2 separate regions of the Homo sapiens genome follow, and region 2 is linked to region 1. Evidence: fine-mapped expression QTL. A gene starts in region 1. The other region holds a variant in brackets. All regions are shown on one strand. Distances are between the middles of the regions. Region 1 holds the start of ICE2 (interactor of little elongation complex ELL subunit 2). Region 2 overlaps ICE2 (interactor of little elongation complex ELL subunit 2).

What was found. PIP is the estimated chance that this variant, and not a neighbour inherited with it, causes the effect.
Region 2: its variant is the best candidate, but not a certain one, in a credible set for the expression of ICE2 in whole blood (TOPMed, PIP 0.90).

What each region holds. Positions count from the first base shown.
Region 1 is chr15:60,476,360-60,481,731 of GRCh38, reverse strand. It overlaps ICE2 (interactor of little elongation complex ELL subunit 2), which reads left to right and starts at 2,590. Exons shown (of 16, transcript NM_024611.6): 1 at 2,590-2,729; 2 at 3,663-3,795. The coding sequence starts at 3,755. It overlaps RORA-AS1 (RORA antisense RNA 1), which reads right to left and starts at 2,554. Exons shown (of 6, transcript NR_120342.1): 1 at 2,334-2,554. RefSeq lists enhancers at 2,789-3,316, 3,639-3,758.
Region 2 is chr15:60,418,755-60,424,099 of GRCh38, reverse strand. It overlaps ICE2 (interactor of little elongation complex ELL subunit 2), which reads left to right. Exons shown (of 16, transcript NM_024611.6): 16 at 338-4,491. The coding sequence ends at 466. Among named protein-coding and RNA genes, the nearest start is that of ANXA2, 23 kb to the right of the region's middle. The variant A/G (reference allele first, on the strand shown) is at 2,069.

The DNA of each region.
Region 1 (5,372 bases):
TACCATATCACACTACCATGGGCAGGTACCTCCCAGCAGCATGAGCTCTTAAACAATTAGAGCAGTTCCTTCAGGCCAGGTCAGGTGTCCCCAACTCTTCCTGACTGCATGCTTTGTGAGACAGTACCCAACACATGAACTTTTACGCTGCCTTTGTCCTACACAAGCCATCCACATCACTTACCTAATAAGAAATACTATCTGCAGCCAGGCATGGTGGCTCACGCCTGTAATCCCAGCATTTTGGGAGGCCGAGGTGGGCGGATCACGAGATCAGGAGTTCAAGACCAGCCTAACCAACATGGTGAAACCCTGTCTCTACTAAAAATACAAAAATTAGCCGGGCGTGGTGGTATGCACCTGTTATCCCAGCTACTCAGGAGGCTGAGGCAGGAGAATCGCTTGAACCCGAGAGGCAGAGGTTGCAGTGAGCCAAGATCGCCCCACTATACTCCAGCCTGGGCGACAGAGGGAGACTCCATCTCAAAAAAAAAAAAAAAAAGAAAAGAAAAGAAAAAAGAAAAAGAAAAAAAGAAATGCTATCTGCACAGTGCCAGGCATTGTAGTGGTTGATTTTTTTAAGCATTCACAAACACTGTCTCCTAACTGGCCTCCTCCCTTCAATGAATTCCGTAGGTTGCCAGGTGAACTTTCCTGAAGCACAGCCAGCCAGTTCTGATTGTGTCATTATGTAAGCTTTTTTGTTTGTTTGTTTCCTAGCATTTTATTTCTTATGCAATAAAGTCAAACTTCCTTAGTCTGGCTTATAAAATCTTACGTGTTCTAGCTTCAACCAGTTTTTCCAACCCCTTTTCCTCTACTACTCTTCAGAGACCTTGCATTCCAGGCAAAATAAACTACCTATGGTTTCCTGTAGCATATTTTTTACATTAACATAATTTCTAACAATATTCTAAATCAGTCTAAAATGTCAGCCAGGGGTAGTGGCTCACACCTGTAATCCCAGCACTTAGGGAGGCCAAGGTGGGCAGATCACTTGAGGTCAAGAGTTAAAGATCACCCTGGCAAACCCCATCTCTACTAAAAAAAAAATACAAAAATTAGCCAAGTGTGGTGGCATGCACTTGTAGTCCCAGCTACTAGGGAGACTGACGCAGGAGAATCGCTTGAACCCAGGTGGCAGAAGTTGCAGTGAGCTGAGATCACACCACTGCACTCCAGTCTGGGAGACTCTGTCTTAAAATAAAATGTAGAACATGCTTCCCTAATAGCACACACTAGATTCTGTTTATGCAATAAGTTTATGCAGTTCCTTGTATTAAAAAAAATTATAGGAGGCCATTGTTTAGAACTTCTGCACTAGACCCCAAGAGACCAGACTAAAATAAAAATGGTATCACTCAGGCTCACCACACCGAAACTGAGTTATGTGGCCCTCCAAGAAATCAGGAGACAGAGGTAACAGGCCAGTTTCAATTTTCAATCAGCAAGATAATGAATTTCCTCTGTTTTAGTCCCTACAGCAAAGAGTAACTTGAAGTAACCTGATGTTAACCAATCAGTTATCTTTCTATTGTACTGTCTGTCTCCACCTTACCAGGAAAGTAACTTTGAAATGATCAATCTGCTTTTTGTTCTTTGTTTCTACTTTCTACAGACCTTTTTTCTGTCCGTAATGCCAACCTCCTCTGTTCCACTCATTGGGACACTCATTCCATTTTATGGAATGAAGTGTTGCCTGATTCCAGAATCGCAATAAGGCCAACTGAGATCTTTAGATGTGTCAAATTTTTGTCTTTTGACACTTGTGCTGGTCTGTCTAGAACGCCCTTTCTCTTCATTCCACATACCCACATTCTTCAAATGAGCTCACACGGCAGGTGCTCAGTGCAGCAACTGACATGTAAGTACTCAATACTATTCAAAACTGCGTTTTGTCCCTCACACTAGCTATTCCTCTCCCTCTAACCTCAATCTATACACCTTTCTTATGTAGTTTATTACTTTCTATTGTATTTAATGTAAATGTCTTAGATTGCCAGAGATCCAAAGCACTGGAAAAATCAGTATTCAGTCTTAGTCCATGTGTACCCAGCACCAAGCACAAAGTACTCTGTTTACGGTCAATAAATCTTTCCGTAATGGATGAGAACAAAACTAGTGTTTGAACTCACAGCTAAAACTGGATGGGGAGTGGAGCGGAGGTGAAGGAGCACTTAATGAGGCCCTACTATGTGCCAGGTACTGTGCAGAGCACAGCTTCTTCCTTTGTTTCATTTAATCCTTTCCAAAAAACCGTATGATGCAGCAGTAACAATTTCATCTCCATTTTACATATGAGGAGTTTGGGTTACGGAAGTCAGGAAACTTGCCTGAGGTCACAACCAAGTATGTTTGGGTCTTTCCAGTACCGCACTTGTCGCTTGTCCGCCTTCCAATTTATCACTCCCCTCCTCTCCCCGACGAAGGTCGAGGACTTTCTAGGAAAACACGCAGTCTCCAACCACTTCCGCCTGGCGAGCCCAGTCTCGCACTTCGCTGCCAGAACCACAGCGAGCGCTTGTGGCGGGAGGAAAGGAGGGGAGCAGCCGTCAAGACGCAAGGCCCCGCCCACTATGTCGCTGAGACGTCATCACGCAGGGCCGAGTCGGCGCGGCCACATCCTTTAAATATGGTCTTTTTTGGGCGCGCGCGACAATGTGAGGAGTGGGGTGGAGCGTGTGTGGTGTGTGGCTGCGGCCTGGGCAAGAGCCGCCGCGGACCATGAGGTGGGCGGAAAGGCTGTGTTGCAGCCCAGACGCGGACGGGAGGGCGCTGCCGGGCCAGCGGGCGTGCTCATGCAGGGGCGGGAGGAGGGAACATGGCGGCCGGGCCAGGACCCTTTGCTCCTGGCTCTGCGCGGCTCCTACCCCTGCTTTGCTTGCCCTTTTACCTGCTTTTCTGGAACCTTGTTTCCCCTCTCTTTGCGTCCCCTTTCCCTCAGCCGTTTCTTTTGCCTTCCTCGACTATTCCCCCCCAGCTCCACACTGGGTCGAAGTGTGAGAGGTAGATTAAGTGGGAGCCGGTCGGGCCCGTTCGGTGTCGAGAGACCGACTCCTAAATTTGATTAGGTTCTCGCAGGTCACTTTATCAGTCTGCCTGGGGTCACAGGAGAAGTACTGAACATGAGAGATCAAGCCTGATTTGTAGTCCTGATGATGTCTGTAAGTGATCTTGTGAAATGTCACTTAAGTTGACCTCAAGTCTTCTCAAATGTGAGGTTCTTTGTGAAAGGCCTAAGATTCCTGATATCGAGGTAGCTTTTGTCATAAAGTGCCTGCCAGAATCTGCCCCATAACAAAGCATGGTCGGGAAAACAAAAGATTTATTTTGGCAGTAAGGGAATGGAAAACTGAGTTGACTTCCCGTTCCATGCCATCAAGTGGCCTAGTATGTAAGCAATGAGAACACCGTTCTGTTTCAGCTCTTATTTCCATAGTGAGTGTCCTGAGAGTAACACTCCCGGCGTAGATTAAATGGAAAAGGGCTCGTCCTGTATCGTCATTGCTGCTCTGCTACAAAGAACCTTGGGTCTGCTGTATTCTGTTTTAGGTGCCACAGTCTGTTGAGGGTAGATGTTTAGGGAGAGATTCTTCCTCACCTAATAGCACCTGGCCTAGCCAATCACTTGCTTTTGATCTTGGCCTTTTGTTTTTACTCAGCTGAGTAAGTTCTGGAGGGATCCTGCCTCTTGGAGCCTTCGCAGCCAGGCAGCTGTGAACTGTGAGCTAGAGTGAAGCAGAAATCTAGGAAGATGAGCTCCAAGATGGTCATAAGTGAACCAGGACTGAATTGGTGAGTTGTAGCCACTTTGTAATCCACTGAAGAGGAGTGTAGTGGGGCTGATGGTTGACATAAGAAAATAGATTTCTGGCATAGAGAGATTTGGAGGAAACAGAAAATACAAGTTTAGGGTCTCAGAATTTACCCTATCCTCATCTTCACATACGGAATGCTAGAGTTATGGCTGACTGTACTTCCACTCCTATAGTGGAACAACACAGTTCAGCACTCAAATTATTTTTAGGTATAATTCCCTCAGGTATTTATTGTTGGTCTCCTGTGAAGGAGAGATACTGGAATTTTCTTGAGTCCAAGAACCTTGGCCCATTTCCATACAAGTAATAAAAAAGACCCTCTTTAAGAATAGACATGCTTTTTGTTATATTGAAATCTATATCAAATGATATAAATGCATAGACTGTATTTTAAAAGTGTATGAGAACTTTGCAAATAGAGAACCTGGTTAAATAATATAGTGGTTTTGTAGCCATCTAGCTAATACATGTGCTGCTTTAGTTCATTTTAACACACATTTACTAAGCCAGCCAAGGAGGATCAAATGTTATAAATGGTTACAAAGAGTATTAAAATAGTACCTGACTCAGACTATTAAGTCAGTATGTTCATTGAGTATTTGTTTATTGCTAACAACACTCCCATCCCCAGGGAGCTCACAATCCCTGAGACCCTTTACTTTGTTTTTATATGATGTGCAGAAACTTAAGAATTTATTGAGATGTCACAGATACAATACCACGACAAGGTAATAAGAAACTATACTGATGCATAGCAAATAAGACTTTCTAATTTTACCATTAATACCTTAATATAGTTTTTTGGATAAATGCCTTTAAGAACAGTTTAAAAAGGAGAAGAGTATGGAGCAAATATGCTAGAATTTCCTATCTGGGCACTAGGACACCCAGAAGTTACCATTTGATTAGGTAAGAGGTATGCACATTTGCATTCCTTGCCAGTGCTATAAAGTATGCATTCAGATGTAGCACAGATGCTCTTGTATACCACCGGCATTGTGGAACTAGTTGTGGTTTAGAACCTTTGCACAATATTGTAGCCCTTGGAATTATCCTTTTCCACGGAATTTTACTGACCTTTGTCCTCCCTAGTAACGTTAATGGATTCAGTGTTTTCAAGTTTTTAATTCCTTCATTCAAACAGCATTTTTGGATGCCTAACTATATGGAAAGCATTGAATATAATATGTTAGTCTCTAAATTAATTATGGTGTTATGAAAAATCATATCACCTTTGAGGTGGTTTTAGCAAACCAGTTATCCCATTTGCCAAAGTAAACAAAATAGCTAGGCTATTTAGTCTTTGTAGTGTCTTTTGGCTCAGCACAGTAGTGCATGAAACAAAAATAAGTTGAGAAGTGTTTTCAGCAACCAAGTATCTTAATGTTATGTCCTAGAGCCAGAAGTGAGGCCAGCCTTTGACAGACCCTTGATTATACTTCAGTCTTTTCTATCTTTAACTTTCCAGTCTCTGTGACATTTATTTAATTGTGTACTACAGAAAATGTAGAGCTGATTATTGGAGCTGGAGAATTCCATAATGGGCCTGGGTTT
Region 2 (5,345 bases), 58 kb after region 1:
TTATTTCAAACACATCACACATAAGGCCTGTCATTCCCTTGATTTCTAATTTATCTTTTCAACCTCTAATAAATTTAACACAGAGAATAGTTTCCCCATTCACTTTGCTCCCCATCTACTCAGATCTATCAACTTCTCTGATGGTTATTTGAAAGTTTAGTACTTAAAAATGTGTCAGATTAAAACTTGTTTAGAAACAGCCAGCTAGCTGGAGATGAAAAATATATAAGAGCTTATTTGCAAGGTGGTTAATACATGTATAAATACTACAGAGTTGACTGTATATAGGTATGTTGTAGATACATTAAGCTATTCTGTTCTCTGCTTCATCTCTTAGATTGGTGGAACGAGAATGCCTACACGCAGCCACAGGAATCCAGTTTCCATGGAAACCAAAAGCAGTTGCTTGCCTGCTCAGCAAGTTGAAACTGAAGGAGTGGCTCCACATAAAAGAAAAATAACTTGAGGACTGTACCATGGAAAACTAAATTTAAAAAAACAGTTATAACAGTGTTTAATTTAGATAAGTTTGAGGGAAAATAATCAGTAGGCAAGAGGAACATTTTTCCTGTAGTAGCTAGAGTGCCTTGAAAAAATGTGTTGGCTATGTGAAGGAATATTTCAACTAAAATGGAATGGTATGCTTTTCACCCTTGAAGTTTGAGGAGGATCTTGATATGTTTTAACATTATCATGGCAGGGAAATATATAAAGAAGAAAAATATTTTTACATTAAACCTTTTCTAAAAATTGTAAATAGAAAAATAATTTGGTTTTTTATCAAGAACAACACTTATCGTTATGTATTGTGTTAGTTATATTGCCAGTCTGTTGCGACTGACTCAAAAAGTTAAATGTTGCCACTGCTGAAGATGATTATGAGCATCGCAAACTTTGTTTCTGACCCATTTTGACAGTTTTTATATACTCCTTTAAAATGATGAATGTTACAGGTTAATAAAGTTAATACCTTTAAAAACTTGGTGAAATTCCATTACAGAAGCCAAAAATAAAAACTCCCTGCCTCTGAAAAGTCAGATTACTGACTTCTTGTTTGGCAACCATCAGTTTGTTTAATAAAAGAAAAAATTTGGTGGTATAACATGTTTGATGACAGATGCCTCTATCTCTAGATTCAAGCTGAGTGTTGAAATACACTGCTGAAAGCAAAGAGATAGGTATGTTTTCCAGAAAAAAAGTCAGTGTCATTGCTCCAGATGACAAGGTTAATGTGGTAAAGCATAAGCTTTTTTTTTTTTTTGAGATGGAGTCTCGCTCTGTTGCCCAGGCTGGAGTGCAGTGGCATGATCTCAGCTCACCACAACATCCACCTCCTGGATTAAAGCGATTCTCCTGCCTCATCCTCCCGAGTAGCTGGGACTACAGGCACCTACCACCAGGCTTGGCTAATTTTTTTTTGTATTTTTAGTAGAGACAGGGTGTTACCATGTTGGCCGGGCTGGTCTCAAACTCCTGACCTTGTGATCCGCCTGCCTTGGCCTCCCAAAGTGCTGGGATTACAGGGGTAAGCCACCGTGCCTGGCCAGCATAAGCTATTTTTATCCTCATCTATACTGATTGATTTAAATTTTCCGGGCCTGCAGATGAATTTGGAAAAGGGCATAATCAACTGATGTTGCTGTAGCAAATTTGGACTTAAGAAACTACAGACAGGGCCGGGCGTGGTGGCTCACACCTGTAATTCCAGCACTTCGCAAGGCCGAGGCGGGAGAATCACTTGAGTCCAGGGGTTGGAGACCAGTCTGGGCAACACAGACCTCATCTCTACAAATAAAAAAGTTAGCCGGGTGTGGTGGGGTGTGCCTGTAGTCCCAGCTACTCAAAAGGCTGAGGCAGAAGAATTGCTTGAGCCCAAGAAGTCAAGGCTACAGTGAGTTGTGATCGCACCACAGAACTCAGCTTGAGTATCAGAGTGTGACCCTGTCTCAAAGAAAAAAAAAAACAGGACAGGCTTGTTTAATCTTTAGAACCCTTACACTAAAATTTTCAGAAATTATGTATGTCATTTGTAAAATATAAGTTTTGTAATCCTAGATAATTGCTTCAC[A/G]TTGAAATTTTTTAGCTATTCTGTGTAAAGAATAGCTATTCTTTTGGCCTAATTTCTGAGAAATTAGACCGAAAAATCTCCTCAAGTATTGTAACAGTTGAAAATACTTATATTCAACTACCAAGTTTTGTTTCATTTTGATTTTTTGTTATAAAACATTTTTAAGTTATTTGAGAAGTAATTATTAGTAAAATTGTATCTTGATAAATCATTTCCTCATCCTGCCATTCCCTTTTATAAAACACTGAGTTTTTTTATTCCTTAAGTCACATATCCCAGAAATGTTTTGGTTGTGAATCATTTGCCAGCGAGCCAAGGGAGAGGCAGGGATTCCCTTGAAATGTACTCTTACACTTTTTTATTTTATTTTTAATGTACATTTGTGTGCACCAGAATGGAATGTGCTCTTTTTAAAGAGCTGGACAGTGGTTGCTTCAGACTTCTGAATACCAGAAAGACTTGCCTTTTAATTTTTAAATATTACTTTTTACATCATAAAATGTGTTATCTTATCCATGTATTTGAATAACATCATATATAAAGGTAGTTTTTTGCTTGTGCTTAGTGAAGCCTCCTTTTTTAACATACATTTGATATGCTTTATGTTCTTTTTCTTGATTTTTAGTACTGAGAATTTATAAGCCAAGAAGTAACTGACAATATGTTTAGCAGGATGTAATCCCAGCTACTTGGGAAGCTGAGGTGGGAGGATCGCTTGAGTCTAGGAGTTTGAGGCTGCAGTGAGCTATGATGGTGCCACTGCACTCCATCCTGGGTGAGAGATCAAGACCCTATCTCAAAAAATGAGCAAGTTTTTTTTTTTTTTTTAAATCAGACTTAGGGCTAGCAAGGATGTGATCACCCTGGCCCATTTATACCTCAGCAGTGAAGGTGTAATTTATACACACCTCTTTGAAAACAGTTTAATTCAGTAAGTGAGTGCAACTATGTGCCATGCACTCCAAAGTAGGTCCCCACAGTTATTCTCTCATAGCCTTGTTTTTTCAGATCTCACCATATTTATTTGTTTCTTTGATTTTCTTTTCTTATAGATTACAAGCTCTGCAAGGACAGGGGCATATTTGTTTTGTTCACCATTAAGTAATAAACACCTAATACAGTGCCTGTCATGTAGTTGCTTAGCAGATATTAGTTAGATGCATGAATGTGTAGGTATCAAAGATTTTTTTTTTCAGGAGATCACATTCTAGTGGAAGACACTATACTGCTTTATGTGATAAGTGCTTTGATAAAGTAAGCAAGTCATCTAACCAGATCTTGGTAGTTAAGGTTTTCTGAGATAGAACTTGAGCTGAGTCTTTTAAAAATAGTAGGATTTATAAGGGAAAATTAAAGGTCTTCCACAAAGAAACTAAGTGAAACTAAGCAGCCTATGAAAAGGTGAAAGTTGGAGAGATTATAGGCTATGAACATGGGAGATGAGAGAGAAAACTGCAGGATAGGGACAGAAACACTGTGCTAAGACATTTGAACTTTGTCCTGTGCAATGTGGGAACCAGTAGTGAAGGTTAATTAACTGACATGATCAGATATGTATTTGAAAAGGGCTCTTGTTGGCATTAGTCTAGAGAATGCGATGGAGCTGGGAAGCGAAAGAAGAAATGTTGGGAGCCTGTGTTGTAGTAACTGAAAAATGGCAATGGCCCAGAATTAAAGCAGCAAGAATAGGAGTGGGCTCAAGTGATGTATAAGGAAAAAAAAAAAAATGACAACTCAGTTTTGTTGTTGGTAAGGAGAGTAAAGTATGGCTTCTGGGTTTCTCATTTGAGATACTGAGTAAATGATGGTGTTAACCCATTGAGAAAATAGTGTGGTTAGAGTGGGAAGAAAGTTAATTTAAAATGTTCATTTTTTTTTTTAGTCATTTCTACTTTTGGATTCTAGGTTTGTGTGCTATATTGGTTATAACCAATTTGCTGAATAATAAATTATCCCAAAACTTAGCTACTTAAAACAACAAACATTATCTCACAGTTTCTGTAAGTCAAAAGTCCAGGTCTCTCATGAAGTTGCAGTCAGGCTCTTGGCTAGGGCTGCAGTCATCTGAAGGATTAGTAAGTCGCTAAGCCCACACTTAAGCTCCACCCTTGAAGGGAGAAGTTTGGAAAGAATTTGTGAACATATTTTTAAATCACATATGCTATGAACAGGTTTAGGGGAGGGAGAGGAAAGAAAACTTTAACTTTTCATTAGCATACTGCATCTGTAGTTCCTAATGGGCATGTTGTAAAGATGTTAAGACGTTTTCTATGCATTATAGGTATATAGTAGTATTTTGTTTTGTTCTGTTTTTTTGTTTGGTATGTAGTAGTTTTTAATCAAACCTTAACGTATTTGATATTAAGATTTATTGAGTTTCTTGTTGAGATGTAGAAATAAAGGGGATCCATTTCATTTATCCATCTACTGTTGCCATGTCCCCTTCACTCATGTCCAGTCTACTTATCAAGGTATATAATGGCAGACACATTTACAAGGCATCTATCTGGGATTTGGATCTGCCCTGCCAGGCAAAAATTACTGAAAAGAGTCAAGAACCAGACCTGTGTTTCTAAGATGGTGGATCTCTAGATTACTTACTTCATCAAACAGATTTAAACAGTCAAGAGTTTGCCTTGGCAGATGTGTTTGCTTTCAATATATGAGCTATAGCCTGGTTGATTCTTTAAGAAAGTAGGAGGGAAGCCTGAGTATAAATTTATTGCTGTTTTGAAAGTGAAGAACCCTTATAAAGATTCTGTGATTAGTGGGTTGACTTTCTTCCCTTTTCTTCAAAATCTGTTTCTTTTGGGTGTGGGGAGAAGGAATATTTTCTATTCTCCCTATCCTAGATTTTGCTTATTTAGAAATATACAGCACTGGAGGCCGGGTGCGGTGGCTCACGCCTGTAATCCCAGCACTTTGGGAGGCCGAGGTGGGTGGATCATGACATCAGGAGATCGAGACCATCCTGGCTAACACGGTGAAACCCCATCTCTACTGAAAATACAGAAACTTAGCCGGGTGTGGTGGTGGGCTTCTGTAGTCCCAGCTACTCGGGAGGCTGAGGCAGGAGAATGGTGTGAACCCGGGAGGCGGAGCTTGCAGTGAGCCGAGATTGTGCCACTGCACTCCAGCCTGGGCGACAGAGTGAGACTCCGTCTCAAAAAATAATAATATACAGCACTGGAGAGTATTTACACATAATCCTAACAGACATATGCCAGTAGGGCAAAGCCACATTGATAAACATGAGTATCCGGTCCCTTCCAAGCAC